Homo sapiens: one gene and its partner. The protein of the gene in region 1 purifies or fractionates together with the protein of each later gene. This does not show direct contact. Each region holds a gene or a part of one and is shown in the gene's direction. Other genes may lie near its edges. The genes, in order: SYPL2 and TSPAN15.

Region 1 (6,909 bases):
AGATGAGTGGGGTGGGTTGGGGAGCAGCTGAGGGGAAGGTAGAGTTTTACTGGAAATTTCGGGGGAGTTCCCATCTTAACTGCAAGGTTCCTTCCAGAAACTTGCCTCCTTACATGACCCCTTTCTTGGCTCTGTAAGAGTCCCCTGCTGAGAACTAGCACAGGACTACTTCTGGGCCAGGGAGAGAGAGGATTGCCTGAGCTCAGGATGGCCTCCCCTGCCACCTGCAGGTTGCACCGGATCCAATATGAGATGCCCCTCTGCGATGAAGAGTCCAGCTCCAAGACCATGCACCTCATGGGGGACTTCTCTGCACCCGCCGAGTTCTTCGTGACCCTTGGCATCTTTTCCTTCTTCTATACCATGGCTGCCCTAGTTATCTACCTGCGCTTCCACAACCTCTACACAGAGAACAAACGCTTCCCGCTGGTGGTGAGTCAGCACAGGCCAGAAGGAATGGGGTGGAGAAACAGATGTTTGTGAGGGGGTTGAGGTCAGAACTGGAGCAGAGGACAAGCATGGCGGCTTCCACCCCCATGGTGGAACCTCTGCCTCCATCAACCTCCCGTTGCTTGCTCCTGTTCACAGGAGGCACAATAGCACCATACACAAGCAGGCTCTGGAGTTAGACTGCCTGGGTTCAGATCCCAGCATGGCCCCTTACTTGCTGTGTGATCTCGGACAAGTTAAATAACCTCTCTAAATCGCAGTTTCCTTAACTATAAAATGGGGATAAAATAATACCTGCTTCATAGTTTTGTGTGTGTATGTGAAAAAATGAGAATGCATGTATCTAGTACATAGTTAGTCTCAATAAGCATTAGCGATTATTAATATTATTCCTCTTTACTCTCTTCCTATCCCAGGCATGCAAGGCGGAAGGGGTGCCTTAAGGGACCCCATTTGCGTCCTGCAGTCTGCCACTTGTATCTGAGCAATGGTGATCAAAGAAAAAGCTGGGAGGGAAGAGTGGGGAATTTAGGCTCCACTTGGGATGAGTGGGTTTTGGGGTGAGGCTGACCAACGATGCCTTGGTACACTGTTGCCAGATCTTAGATCTGAGGGCATTAGCAGGGCTAGCCTGAGTGGCAGGACTCCTTTGGGGGCAGTGAACAGATGCCTCAGGACCACCTGGGTTCTAGGTGTTGGGTAGGATGGGAAGAGGCAACTGTCCTGGCACCCTGGGATTGCCAGTATCATGGCAAGTGGAAAAGAAGCAAGGGAATCATGGGGCCTTTCTGAGTGTATTTCCCATCCCTCTGCTCCTCCCAGGACTTCTGTGTGACTGTCTCCTTCACCTTCTTCTGGCTGGTAGCTGCAGCTGCCTGGGGCAAGGGCCTGACCGATGTCAAGGGGGCCACACGACCATCCAGCTTGACAGCAGCCATGTCAGTGTGCCATGGAGAGGAAGCAGTGTGCAGTGCCGGGGCCACGCCCTCTATGGGCCTGGCCAACATCTCCGTGGTGAGACCTGTGGCCACTGCAGGAAGCAGCACCAGCCCTGCTGCCCAGGCCTGTCCCAGCTAGCAGGTCCTGAAAGGAAAGAGAGGGTGTCCCAGAGCTGGTGTCCCCTGCACCTGGAGCTGGTGCCCTCACTGCGCTTCATGCTGGCTGCTGGCTCCTGGCTGACCCTGAGAGGACATTTTGGGATGAGGGGAACCCAAAAGCCACTTAGCCTTCTGTTCCTTCCTCCTTCTGCACTCTGCCTCCAATTCCCTTCTCATTTCCCCACCTCTAGGCACGCTCTCTGTGATGTCTCCCCTCCTCCTGCCTGTTCTACACAATGTGTGTGAACACATAAAGGGGAGCCTGGGGCTGTGGCTGAGCTTGAAGCTGCGAGCAGACCCAGCATGAGTGGGAAGGGGCTTACTGTCACTCAGCCCTCCAGCCTGGAAAGGGGCTTTGGAGCAGTAGTGGGTCTGCTGGATGCATATGGATTTGGCCATCCCAGTTGTTAGAATGTTGAAATATGTCCATATCCATTGGTAAAGAGCTGAGGTCTTGAGCTTCTCAAATGCTGCCCGTCATCCCAGCCACCTCAGCCCTGCTCTGAAAATGACTTGTTCCCACATCTGAAATGTTTAATGGCTGGCACACCAGGAACACACGTCTGGAACTTGCTGGAACCCTGCTTATGGTTCCCCCCCAAAAAAATTTTATTGTAGAAATGTTCACAGGTACAACAAAGTTGAAAGAATTTTACAGTGAATACCCATGCACTCACCACCTAGACTGTGCCATTAACTTTTTACTAGACTTGCTTTATCACATATTTATTCACTTCTTCATCCATCAATCCGTCTTGTTTTTAGTGCATTTCAAAGATAATTTGGGACATCAGTACACTTCCCTCTAAGTACTTCCTGCTGTGAGGTTTTTAAAATATGTTGAATAACTATTTGAACATAGCCCTGGCTAGGTGCCTGATCACAGGGAAGGAGCACCTTGGACAGCTCCTGCCACACCTACCTGGCGGAAGGTGCTCCGAACAGGGCCTCACGCGTGCTGTGGGAGGCGCCCCAGGGCTGACTTTTGCTTGGCTCCTTGCTATGCTTTGCACGATGCTCCTCTAAAGGGTCAGATTCTGCTAGTGACCAAGCTACAGCTTGGGTGCATGGTGTGGACAGAATTAGACACTTTCACCTGGGATTCCCCTAAACAGTTGATGGTCCTGAGCCCTGCCTCTATACCGAGCTCTCTGTCTTAGTCTTTCTAGTCCTCTGTGCTTCTTCCCTGCACAAGCCCCAACCCCAACTGCAATAGGAACTCCCCCTCCCTGTTCCCACAATGACCCCCTGACTATTCTCACAAATTCCCCTGATGTCTTTGCAGCTCTTTGGCTTTATCAACTTCTTCCTGTGGGCCGGGAACTGTTGGTTTGTGTTCAAGGAGACCCCGTGGCATGGACAGGGCCAGGGCCAGGACCAGGACCAGGACCAGGACCAGGGCCAGGGTCCCAGCCAGGAGAGTGCAGCTGAGCAGGGAGCAGTGGAGAAGCAGTAAGCAGCCCCCCACCTGGCTATTCCCGAACTGGACAGCACCTCTTCAACCACCTCCGGCTTCCAGGACCTTTCTCTTCCTCCTCCTCCAATTCCCCTCCCCCATCATTCTGGTCTTTGAGCTTTGAGACGATGGGCAGGCATCAGCTGTTGGAAACCTGGGCAGCCCTCTCAGTGGCTTCCTATCCTCCTTCTTGCTGGAGCCATGAATGGCAGGAGCTCAGTGCTTCTTGTGCAGTGCCTGGACCCAGGTATCTTACTTGGGGTCTTACTTGTACCCTTACAGTCTCTGAGAACCAGCCTCTGCTGCAGGTGAGGGTTGGGGGCAGGAAACCAGTGCTCTGAGACTGGTTCCTAGCAGCCACCTTTCTGTCAACCTGTCCGGCTTCAACAATATTAGGGGGAAGGGAAATCAGCTAGTAGCCTTCCCCTCTGGTCCCTTGTGTGGAGGCCCCAATAGTGGTTTGGCGACCCCTCCTCAGTGGCTGTCATCTAGTCCCTGCGTCTGATCTCCAGTCATCCCATGACTCAGTGTGCCTTCCACTGTCTTCTCTGGCCTCTGCCTGCCCACAGAATCCACCATGTGTGAACCAGAGAGGTCCACCAGCCTAGAAAACAGCCCTTCAGAGGGTCCTGATGAGGCCTTCCTGGACTCAGCTGGGAGCAAGATAAATTGCAACTGAGTTGCAGCTTCAAGAAAGTAAAGCCAGTAAGCTTGCTGGCAGAATCAATTTCTTCTATCCCCTCAATCCTCCCACCCACCAGGCTGGGGCACTTTCCACCAACACTCTAAACTCTACTTTAGAAACGCCCTATCTTCCTCCCTGTCCTCCTTCTTGGTCTCACACTTGGGACTCAAAAATGTGGAGTCAGGACCTGCCTCCTAATCCCCTTACTTCTCTGTCCATCTCCCTTCCCCAGCATCGTGCATCTGAGGCATTTGAGATCCTTTTTGAAGTCTGTCCAGGCCTTCCTTTTATTCCTGTGGGGCCAGACAGGGGCTTAGGAAGGGCCAAAGGACCATCATGAGGCTAAGTTGCCCCAGAGCCCCAGGATGGATGGGCCCATTTTTTCCTTATTCCCTGCTCAGTTTTTTCCCCTGCTCCTTCTCTAGTCCTTCTTTCATATTTCTCCTTCTCATCTTGAAAACAGGATGTTCCCTCTTCCCTTGCTGTCCCATTTCTCCCCTGTGTCCTTATTTCTCCCAGTCTCTATCCCCTCTCAAGTCCAGGGCAGGCCGATGCTATTGGTGCTTCTTCACTTTGGGACCCAGTTCCATATTTGTCTTTAGTGTATATCCTCTTCCTGATACCTCCTTCAGTCCCTCTCTGGGCCCCAAGGCTGAGAATCAGTGTTAACTGGGTAAGGATCATTTGCTTCCTACCCAGCTCAATCTGCCCTGGCCATAGGGCTTCCCAGGGAAGGAAGAAGAGGGAAGAATCCGACCACTTTCCAATCCAGTGCCAATTGGCCCACTAAGCATCCTAAAGGTGAATGTGCCCTGTGCCAATCTCTCCTCAGGACTGAGTCAACCCCCTTCAACCTCCTCACCTCTCTAAACACCATCCATAGTAACATGTGCATTACTGGGGTACCTAGGAGTCAGGACTTTTGACTTCAGGCCAGTCATTTCCTCCCGATGGGGAAAGGGTGAGATTTACATCCCCAAATGCTTGAGTCCCTCAGTGAAAGAATTAGTTTTTGTTTGTTTGTTTAAGATTTTGGGGAAGAGATTTGAGGAGGAAAGAAAGGAGATGGGGTGAGAGGGTTTTTAAGTCTGAAACTCTCTGTCATGAGCTGTCCCCATGGTTACTCAAGGACAAGGGGGGACAGTTTTGCCTACAGCTCCAGAGACACAGAGAACAAAGGGGTGACCTTCATTTTTCTTCAAGCCGGCCTCTGTGGGGGTCTGTGAGCAGCTTCTACTGGATCTTTGTTTGGATTCTGTGTCTGTATTTATAATTTATTTGAAATGTGCTGGGTAGTGTTCTCATTTGGGGGCTGAAGTTAGCAACTGGGCCTTCAGCTAGGGAAAGCAGTTGCGGGCAGGGGGTGGGGGGAGATTATATTCACTCCTGCCAAGGACTCCCAGCCCAGGACTCTCTTTAGAGCAAGGAAGCCTCGTTCTCTTTCTTCTCAAGAGGCTCTCTTGTTCTCCATCAGGAGAGCCTTGATTTAGGCTACGGCCTCACTCTCTATGGCCACCCTAAGAGGAAAGGCTACTTCACCTCATTACCTCCAGAGGGCTGGGCAGGGCCAAGTGCCTCATAGGACTCATGTTCTCTCCAACCAGGGCTGGCATCACTGCTTTGCAAAGTGGGGCCTGAGGTAGAAGAAGGTGTCTGGTTTCTCCAGCTGCTGTAGGAGGCTAATGGGCAGGGTACTTGCCCTTTGTCCCACTAGACTCTAACCCAGCACCAGGGTGCCCACCTAGGACCTTTCCTGGACATGAGTTTCCTTCACTATCATAGTCATGAGCCTCCTACTTCTGGGATTGCAGATCAGGGGTGGGGGGAGAATGTTGCATGTTGTTTTCTGGTGCTTGTTATTATATATTTGAATAAACAGTGCTGCAAGTACTTGCCATGAAGGATCTGAGACTGGAGTCCTTCCGGGGATTTATTTTTTCTTCCTCTCCCTTGCTTTAAGTTCTTGAACCAATATCAGGACTTTCACCAAGATATCATTCTACTGCTTTCCACTGTGCACCCCAAGCAACAAAGTCAGACTCTGTTGCTTGGGGTGCAGAGAGGAGAGCAGTTATTCCTAGCAGGCTCTGGTCTAGTGACATCTCCTCTTTTGGTGGCACCCAATTAGACCAAAGTAACTGGGACTCATTAGCAATTCTGGAGCAAACTCAAAAGGTGAGAGATAGTGGCTTCCACAAAGCTGTTTCCATTTGTTCTCCTACCATCTGTGACCCAAACAGGCTTCCTGTCAGGAGTTGAGGGCCATATGCTTCACTTTCTTAACTATCAGCTTCTTGTTGAACAAACTTGCACCTCTATCCCTCTTCAGAGAGTCACACACTACATTTACATCCCCTAGAAAAATACCTTGGGTACAATTGAACATTTAATTTTTACCTGATTCCTGGATGCCCTAGGGATCATCTGTGGGTCTCAGGTTGAGATTCCCTGCCCTCAGAGATTATTCTTGAAGTACTTACACCTTCCCTGGATGAAAAGGAGAAGAAAATCTGAGGTCTTGCTCCCCAACTTGTTTTCCCCTTAGCTAAAGGGTCAAGCGTCGGGGGTGAGGTGTGAGAGGTTGAGGAGGAAAAAGGATTAGTATTACTTTTTTAATGCGATGGCGGCGGGGGGGGGGCGGGAAATGGAGTAGGCAGACTTTTGTCTGATTGTGTGAGGGTGGGAAGAAATGTTATCAGCTGAGAAGATGAAAGAAATGGATGATTAAGGTACTTTCCAGACCTTAGCAAGGAAGATGACAGCTCTGATGAGAAATCTCCCTATGCCGAGGCTTCAGAAGCAGCCCTTCCAGCAGAGAAAGTATTCATTAGAAAAAGAAGGCAAAGTGATGGATGGAGTCAGGGTCCAGCCAGGGTTTGGGAAGAGGCTGTACAGGGTATCGATCGCAGTTCTCAAGAGAAGAGAGACAGATCAGCAGAGATGCTGCAAACACCAGCTGCCTCGGGGCCACCCCAGTTCTGGGGCTGGCTCTGGCTCGGAGACAGCCTTCTGTCATCCTGTCATCATGACAGGTGATCTTGGTCAGCTTGGCCAGGTCCTCTCAAATCCAGACAACGCCACGCCAACCCTCTGCTCTGCATCAGGGCAGCGTGGGTTTCCCACAGAGGAGGCACGACACGGGAGCCGAGGCCCTCCCCCACACCACCCCTGTGTCCTTCAGCACCTCCTACAGACTCCCTCCCCTTGCCCTTCTGATTCAC
Region 2 (7,087 bases), on another chromosome or scaffold:
CTTTGACACTGTTTGAACAAGGAATGGGTGGTGCCAAAACTATTTTAGCCAATCTAAATATCTTTAATACTGTTAATTTCTCCAAAGGAGACTCATTTCTAATACCTGTTATGCTAATTAATAAGCCCAGAATTTTACCAATCCATTCATTATGCTAATTAGAAAAGCCTTGGGGGTGGATTGAGATATGGATATTTGCATGGGATACTGAGTGATTGTTCCAGACTCTGCATGCCTCTGAACTCCCAAGTTCATTGAAGTGAAGTTGGTAACTTAAAATCAGACATGGTGGAAGTATTTACTTTATGGAAATTGGAATCCCCCACACCAGCTAGTTTTTAAATATTTACCAGTATATCAGTGGATAGCTGAGTAAGTGACTTCTGGAATGTGGCTTTCTGGTAAGATGTTGGCTGACAACCTTACCCTCATGACTACCTCTGTACCAGTGATGCTTAATTCTGGTTGCACTTTAGAAATTACCTGGGGGAGTCCAGACACAATGGCTCATGTCTGTAATCCTAGCACTTAGGGAGGCGGAGGTGGGCTGATGATTTGAGGTCAGGAGTTCAAGACCAGCCTGACCAACATGGTGAAACTTGTCTCTACTAAAATACAAAAATTAGCTGGGTGTGGTGGCGGGGGCCTGTAATGTCAGCTACTTGGTAGGCTGAGGCAGGAGAATCACTTGAACCTGTATAGCGGAGGTTGCAGTGAGTCAAGATCACGCCACTGCACTCCAGCCTGGGTGACAGAGCAAGACTGCCTCTCAAAAAAATAAAAATAAACATAAAAATGAGAAATTACCTGGGGAGTTTAAAAATAATACTGATTACCACGTTCCTGTTGGTGGGGATTTTGACTTGACTGCAGTGGGGCTTGAATATCAGGATACATTTAAAGCTTACCAGGTGCTTTTAGTCTGCAGCTAGGGTTGCATTCACACCTGTGTGTCACACTATGCCACACATTCTAACAGTCCTACAAAAAAGTAATGGCAAAACCAGGATTTGCACCAGGCCTGCTGGCCCCTAGGCCAGAGTTCCTGGCTAAAGGAGGAAAAGTGGGAAACAGATGGCCATTTCTTCTGAGGTCTCAGTGTTTGCAAATGTGGTTCAGGAGGAGCCCTAGTGCTTGGGGTCAGGGTCAGGATTGCAGGTGGGGAGGCACAGTGAAGAAGCCCAGCAGCCAGGGAAAGGCTGTGCCAGCCCCAAAGAGCTCCAAGGCTCTTTGTAGGGATGGCTCACCTCGAGGGCTTAGGGAGAGCTGAGAGGGCTTGCTAAGAAGCTTGTGTGTCACCAGGGAATATTTGAAAGATGAGAGAAAATGCAGCTGGCTGGAGAGGCCAGAAGGGAAGAATAGAAGTCCAGGGGCAACTGGGAAGGAAACCTGATGGAGGTGTGTGGCAGTTTCGACTGTAGTTTAAATATGGAGAATGAAAGGGAACTAGGAGGCTAAACTAGCCTTCCAGGGTATGAAGAGGGTTCCAAGCTTCTATGGGTGGGGAAGAGACTAGCACCTCAAATAATGGGTGTGGACTTAGCTCTGCAGGGCTGGGTGGAGGCTCTAGCCCTCAAAGAGGAATAAAAAGTTAGTCTTCCTCCTCAAAGGACAGAAAGGACAACTTTTTTTTTTTTTGGGGACCGAGTCTCGCTCTGTCATCCAGGCTGGAGTGCAGTGGCACGATCTTGACTCATTGCAACCTCTGCTATCCAGGTTCAAGTGATTCTCCTGCCTCAGCCTCCCGAGTAGCTGGGATTACAGGCACCCATCACCATGCCCGGCTAATTTTTGTATTTTTAGTAGAGCCAGGGTTTCACCATGTTGGCCAGGCTGATCTTGAGCTCCTGACCTCGAGTGATCCCCCTGCCTTGGCCTCCCAAAGTGTTGGGATTACAGGTGTGAGCCACCGCGCCCGGCCAGAATGGACAACTTTTAACACTATGGTAAGATGCCTTCTTGGCCCTCAGATAATCATTTGAGGGCAGCTTGCATTACTCTCTGGTTCTCTTTCCACCTTTTCTTTTCCCTGTTGTTTTTTTTTTGAGACAGGGTCTTGCTTTGTTGTCCAGGCTGGAGTGCCGTAGCACAATCATAGCTCACTGCAGCCTTGATCTTTTGGGCTCGAGAAGTGATACCCCCACCTCACCCTCCCAAGTAGCTGGGACTACAGGCACGAGACACCATGCTTGGCTAATTTTTTTGATTTTCAGTGGAGATGAGGTCTTGCTACGTTGCCCAGACTGGTCTGAAACTCCTGGACTCAAGCAAACCTCTCACCTTGGCCTCCCAAAGTGCAGGGATTACAGGCATGAGCCACTGTGCCTGGCTCTGGTTCTATTTCTCTACCCCACACAAACATCCTCCCAAGGTTTGTTTGTTTTGTACCAGGAAATTGGTTTCCTTTTACCCTTCCAGGCATGGCACTGCCTCCCTCCCCACCCCCCAATCTTGCTTTCTTCCTCCTAGGGCAGAGCTCTGGGGGCTAAAGCCAGCCTGGACTAAGTCTCTGAGTCTGTCCTTCTCTGTTGAGTTTGTGTATGCAGGAGCCCTGGGAACCCAGGACTGGGGACTTGTATAAGAGTGTCGTTCCTGAAATCACCACCAGGGACCCCACCCAGCACTGCTAGAGCTTATGACCTCTGCCATGGATTTAATTACTGAAGGCCACAGCAGGGATTGTCTGGCTCCCAAGTCCCAGGCTGAGCTAGGCTTGGGAGACAGGAAACAACAGTGAGTAAAGCTGGGACCATCTAGCATGAGAGACAGGCTCACAGCCACCTCTGGTCCCAGGCTGAGAAAAGGCCAGGTGGGAGGAGGCTGGGTTAGTGGCTGGCTATGTGCAAGAGAGGGAGCTGCCTCCCTCACCTATAGTTTCTGTTTGTTTGTTTTTTGTTTTTTTGAGATGGAGTCTCCCTTTGTCACCCAGGCTGGAGTGCAGTGGCGGGATCTCGGTTCACTGTAACTTCCGCCTCCCGGGTTCAAGCGATTCTCCTGCTTCAGCCTCCCCAGTAGCTGGGACTACAGGCATGCACCACCCTGCCCGGCTAATTTTTTTTGTATTTCTTAGTAGAGACAGGGTTTCACCACGTTGTCCAGGCTAGTCTCGAACTCCTGACCTCAAGTGATCCGCACGCCTTGGCCTCCCAAAGTGTTGGTATTACAGGCGTGAGCCACCGTGCCCGGCCTTGTTTTTGTTTTTGTTTTGGAGAGAGGGTCTCACTCTGTCTCCCAGGCTGGAGTGCACTGGCACAATCACGGCTCACTGCAGCCTTGACTTCCCTGACTCAAGCGATTCTCCCGCCTGTCTCCCAAGTAGCTGGGACAACAGGCGCGCCACCGTGCCTGGCTTTTTATTTTTTTTAATTATAGAGTCGGCGTTTTGCCATGTTGCCCAGGCTGGTCTTGAACTCCTGGGGCTCAAGCCATTCGCCCTCCTCAGCCTCCCAAAGTGCTGGGATTACAGGCGTGAGTCACCGCGCCAGGCCTTCAACCTAGTTTGAAGATGGGGTTTCCCGGGAGGAACCCTTCCCAAGGCTGGGTTATCACCTGGCAAAAGAAGGGGACTTCCGAGGTCGTTTGGTGAAGGCCTTCAGCAGATCTGTTTCACGAGCAAACTTCAGACTCCAGCTCCATGGGGGCCTATTAGCCCCACCCTGGTCTGCCTCCCTGAGCCTTCCTGAGCCGAGCAACTCCACTTCCTTATTCCATTCACGTTTAGCACACTCATTTGCACTTTCAACACCTGGGCGATTAATTCTTGCCCTTTTCCCAAAGTTTTCCCTCTTGACAAGAGGAAAGCTTGCATTTCTATGTACCCCGATTAGGCACGCTCGCTCTCTCCTTAGAGCACCTCTGGTTCACCTCTCCCACGCCCCCTGCATTAGCACAGGCGTTTCCAGAGTTGCACGCGAGCTCATTTGCAAGACCGTCTCCCCCTCCCATCCCTTCTTGGTCCCCTCTAGGGCCCAGGGCAGCAGCCCCGCCCCTGGCCCGCCCCCTCCCAGACGCTAGGCAGCCGCGGCCTCCCATTGGCCGCCAGGGCTGGCAGGCTTCCCGGCTGGGGCTGTGATTGCCGCGCTCCAGTGTCAGTCCCGGAGAGAACGCCGGTGGCGGGGCTGGTAGCCCGGCAGCCGCAGGTGGGGCCACGAGCGCTGGCTGAGGGACCGAGCCGGAGAGCCCCGGAGCCCCCGTAACCCGCGCGGGGAGCGCCCAGGATGCCGCGCGGGGACTCGGAGCAGGTGCGCTACTGCGCGCGCTTCTCCTACCTCTGGCTCAAGTTTTCACTTATCATCTATTCCACCGTGTTCTGGGTGAGTGACCCCAGTAGGGCCCGGGGATGGGGGTGGGGACCCACAATCCGGCCGCCCCCTCACTGGCCCGGGGTTGGGTCCACACTTAGCCGCTCCAGGGAGTGCGCGGGTGAGCGCGCGCGGACTCCTTGTCTTTCTACCTCACATTCGGGCGGCCAGAGCTCAGCCTGAATTTTCAGCCGCCCTTTCGGGAGTGTGAGAGCCGGTTGTCGACCGACCGAGTGCCACCTGGCTCACCTGTGTGCACCGGCTGGGCGGTTTGCCCGCTGTGCGTCCGCTGGCCGGCTGGCTAGGCTGAGGTGAACGCGCTGGCCGCGCCCACCACGCCTACCCGGTAGGACTGACTGCCTCTGCATCGGCCTGTGGAGCTTAAGTAGTTAGGATTTGCAGTCGGGGTTGGGAGACCTGGATTCCGGGTCTGGTCCCTGCTAGTTACTTGCTGATGCCCCTGAGCGAGACGCTTCCCCGCTCCGTCTTGGTTTCCTCTTTGGTGGATGCACGTGCCTCCTGCGTGGCGAGGAGAAGTCCACCAGACGACGTCTCCTGCACACCTAGGTGCTCAGTTTCCGCTGTCGCTGGGCTTTACCTCCTCCTCTGCCTTGTTAGGGGGCAGGATGGTAGTGTTTAGACATGAACCAAGCTTTGAATTCCGTCGCTCCGAGTGGTCTTTTATTTTATATTTTATTTTTTATTTAAAACATTGCTAATCTCTGTATCGTTCCAATTTCAGTTTGTGCGTTTCTGAAATGAGCACTTGCTGAGTGATCTTGGGGAAGTTACTTCATTCCTCTCGGCCATGGTTTCCTCATCTGTAAATGGACACAGTAATTATATTCAACTTGTAGGATGCTCGCGGAGATTACGTGAAATAGGCCGGGTATGGTGCCTAGTGAAGAGCTCAAGAAGTGTGAGACATTATTACTATCGTGGGCAGGGAATTTGGACACCTGTGGTGTAAGCTGCCCCAAGAGATTGGGTTTCTGTAAGGGCGTTTCATATTAGGCTGGGCCCTATTCTAGAGATGAGGATATCTTCCTATAGGCCAGCTCCGCCCCTGTCACTCCAGAATCGCTCTCTGCCTGCAGTATGCCACAAGAGCAGACTTGCCCAGGGACCCAGGGTGGTCACTGACACCCCATTCCCACCAAATACACACACTCTCCCCTGGTGTCCTCCTTAGCCCCTTGCTGGGTCTCTTCTGCTAGCAGGAGCTGCTGGATTTGCCATCAGGACTGGCTTTCCCTGTGACCCCTTTGTGGGTGGGGCCTTGCCTGGTAATCGGAGATCCAGATTCAGCTCTGTTACTGACTTATGGATATCTTAGGCAAGTCACTTTCCTGTTTTGGGCCTCAGAACTGTTCATTGACTTTTCCATCTAGAAGACTAGTCTGAGGCCAGTTTCCAATCCAATTCTCTGACTCTAGGTAATGTGGAGGAGAGATGAACAGTATGTTTGGGGGGCGGAGGATGGAGCAAGGACCTGTTGGTGGAAGCTCTAGGGAGACAGAAGGTCATATGTGGGATGGGAGTGGGGGTGATTTGAGCTATAAATCAGCGGTTGCATCAGATTCTTGTGCCCTGGCATAGGTATTTATTTAAATTTACATAAGCTTAATTGTAGTAAATTACTTACTAGAATTAAGGTAATTCTAGTGTGCAGTCAGTATTGAAAACTGCTGCCCTAGATGGTCTCATAGGTCCCCTAAGTCCCCAGGATTTCTGTGCCTGCCCCTTGTGTGTTCTGTGAGCCCTTCTCTCTGTAAATCAGAGTTGAAAGAGCCTAAGGTTGATGGGTGGGGAGGTAGGAAGATGGAGTTGTATTTTGGGCTTCACCCCTTCCCCAGATATATAATCACAAACCAGTCTCTCTACCTCCTCACGTTTCCATTTTCTCATCTATAAAATGAATAAGTGAATCTCTGCCCTGTACCTCACTGAATTGTTTTAGGATTAGTGATATGGGGAAAGAGTGACATATGAGCAAAATCAGTGCAGTACAAACATACCTCATGCAGTTAAATAAAACTGAACTCTAATTTTTAAGGCTTTGTTCTGTCACTGTCCTTTGCAGCCCCCAGAGAAGCCCACCCAATGGCCCTTGCCTTGCTTCTCTTGGGCAGGGTGGTTCTCAGAACTTGGAATCCCTCCTCTGCCAACTGAGGTTGCCTTACCAAATCCTTAACTCCCATCCCTGGAAGTATTTCTGTTTAAAAGTCTCTACACCCATGCCAAGAACTCAGCCACCTGCCAACTCTGCCAGAGCAGCTCCAGGTGCCAGAGTTTGACTGCAGGGCAGGGCCCAGTGTGAGTAAGTAATCTGTCCTGGACCAGGTTTACTGTTATTTGGAAACCATTTACAGGAAAGCCTATTATCTCTGGTGCCATCTCTGGTGCCATCTCTGGGGTTGAGGGAAGGGTTACTTGCTTTGTAAGTCCAAACTGCTAGCAATTTGCATCTCAGTTTTTAGGTCTGGAGGGCCATAAGTTTTATGACAGCCTTGTACCTTCTGTAAGACTTTTTGCTTACTTTAAAAATTACTACTGGGGCCGGGCCCGGTGGCTCATGCTTGTAATCCCAGCATTTTGGGAGACTGAGGCGGGAGGATCACCCGAGGTCTGGAGTTTGAGACCAGCCTGGCTAACATGGTGAAACCTCATCTCTACTAAAAATACAAAAATTAGCCAGGCGTGGTGGTGTGTGCCTGTAATCCCAGCTACTCGGGAGGCTGAAGCATGAGAATTGTTTGAACCCAGGAGGTGGAGGTTGCAGTGAG

Evidence for each region.
Region 2: the proteins of SYPL2 (region 1) and TSPAN15 purify together in Homo sapiens (affinity purification with mass spectrometry; 2 studies listed by BioGRID and IntAct, with this or other methods). This does not show direct contact.

The regions. Positions count from the first base shown.
Region 1 is NC_000001.11:109,476,546-109,483,454, forward strand, and holds the end of SYPL2 (synaptophysin-like protein 2), read left to right. Parts: intron 1-230; coding exon 231-432; intron 433-1,272; coding exon 1,273-1,464; intron 1,465-2,832; coding exon 2,833-3,003; 3' UTR 3,004-3,572; coding exon of another isoform or gene 3,573-3,588; 3' UTR 3,589-5,589; downstream 5,590-6,909.
Region 2 is NC_000010.11:69,447,378-69,454,464, forward strand, and holds the start of TSPAN15 (tetraspanin-15), read left to right. Parts: upstream 1-4,087; 5' UTR 4,088-4,217; coding exon 4,218-4,313; intron 4,314-7,087. UniProt on the Homo sapiens protein: Part of TspanC8 subgroup, composed of 6 members that interact with the transmembrane metalloprotease ADAM10.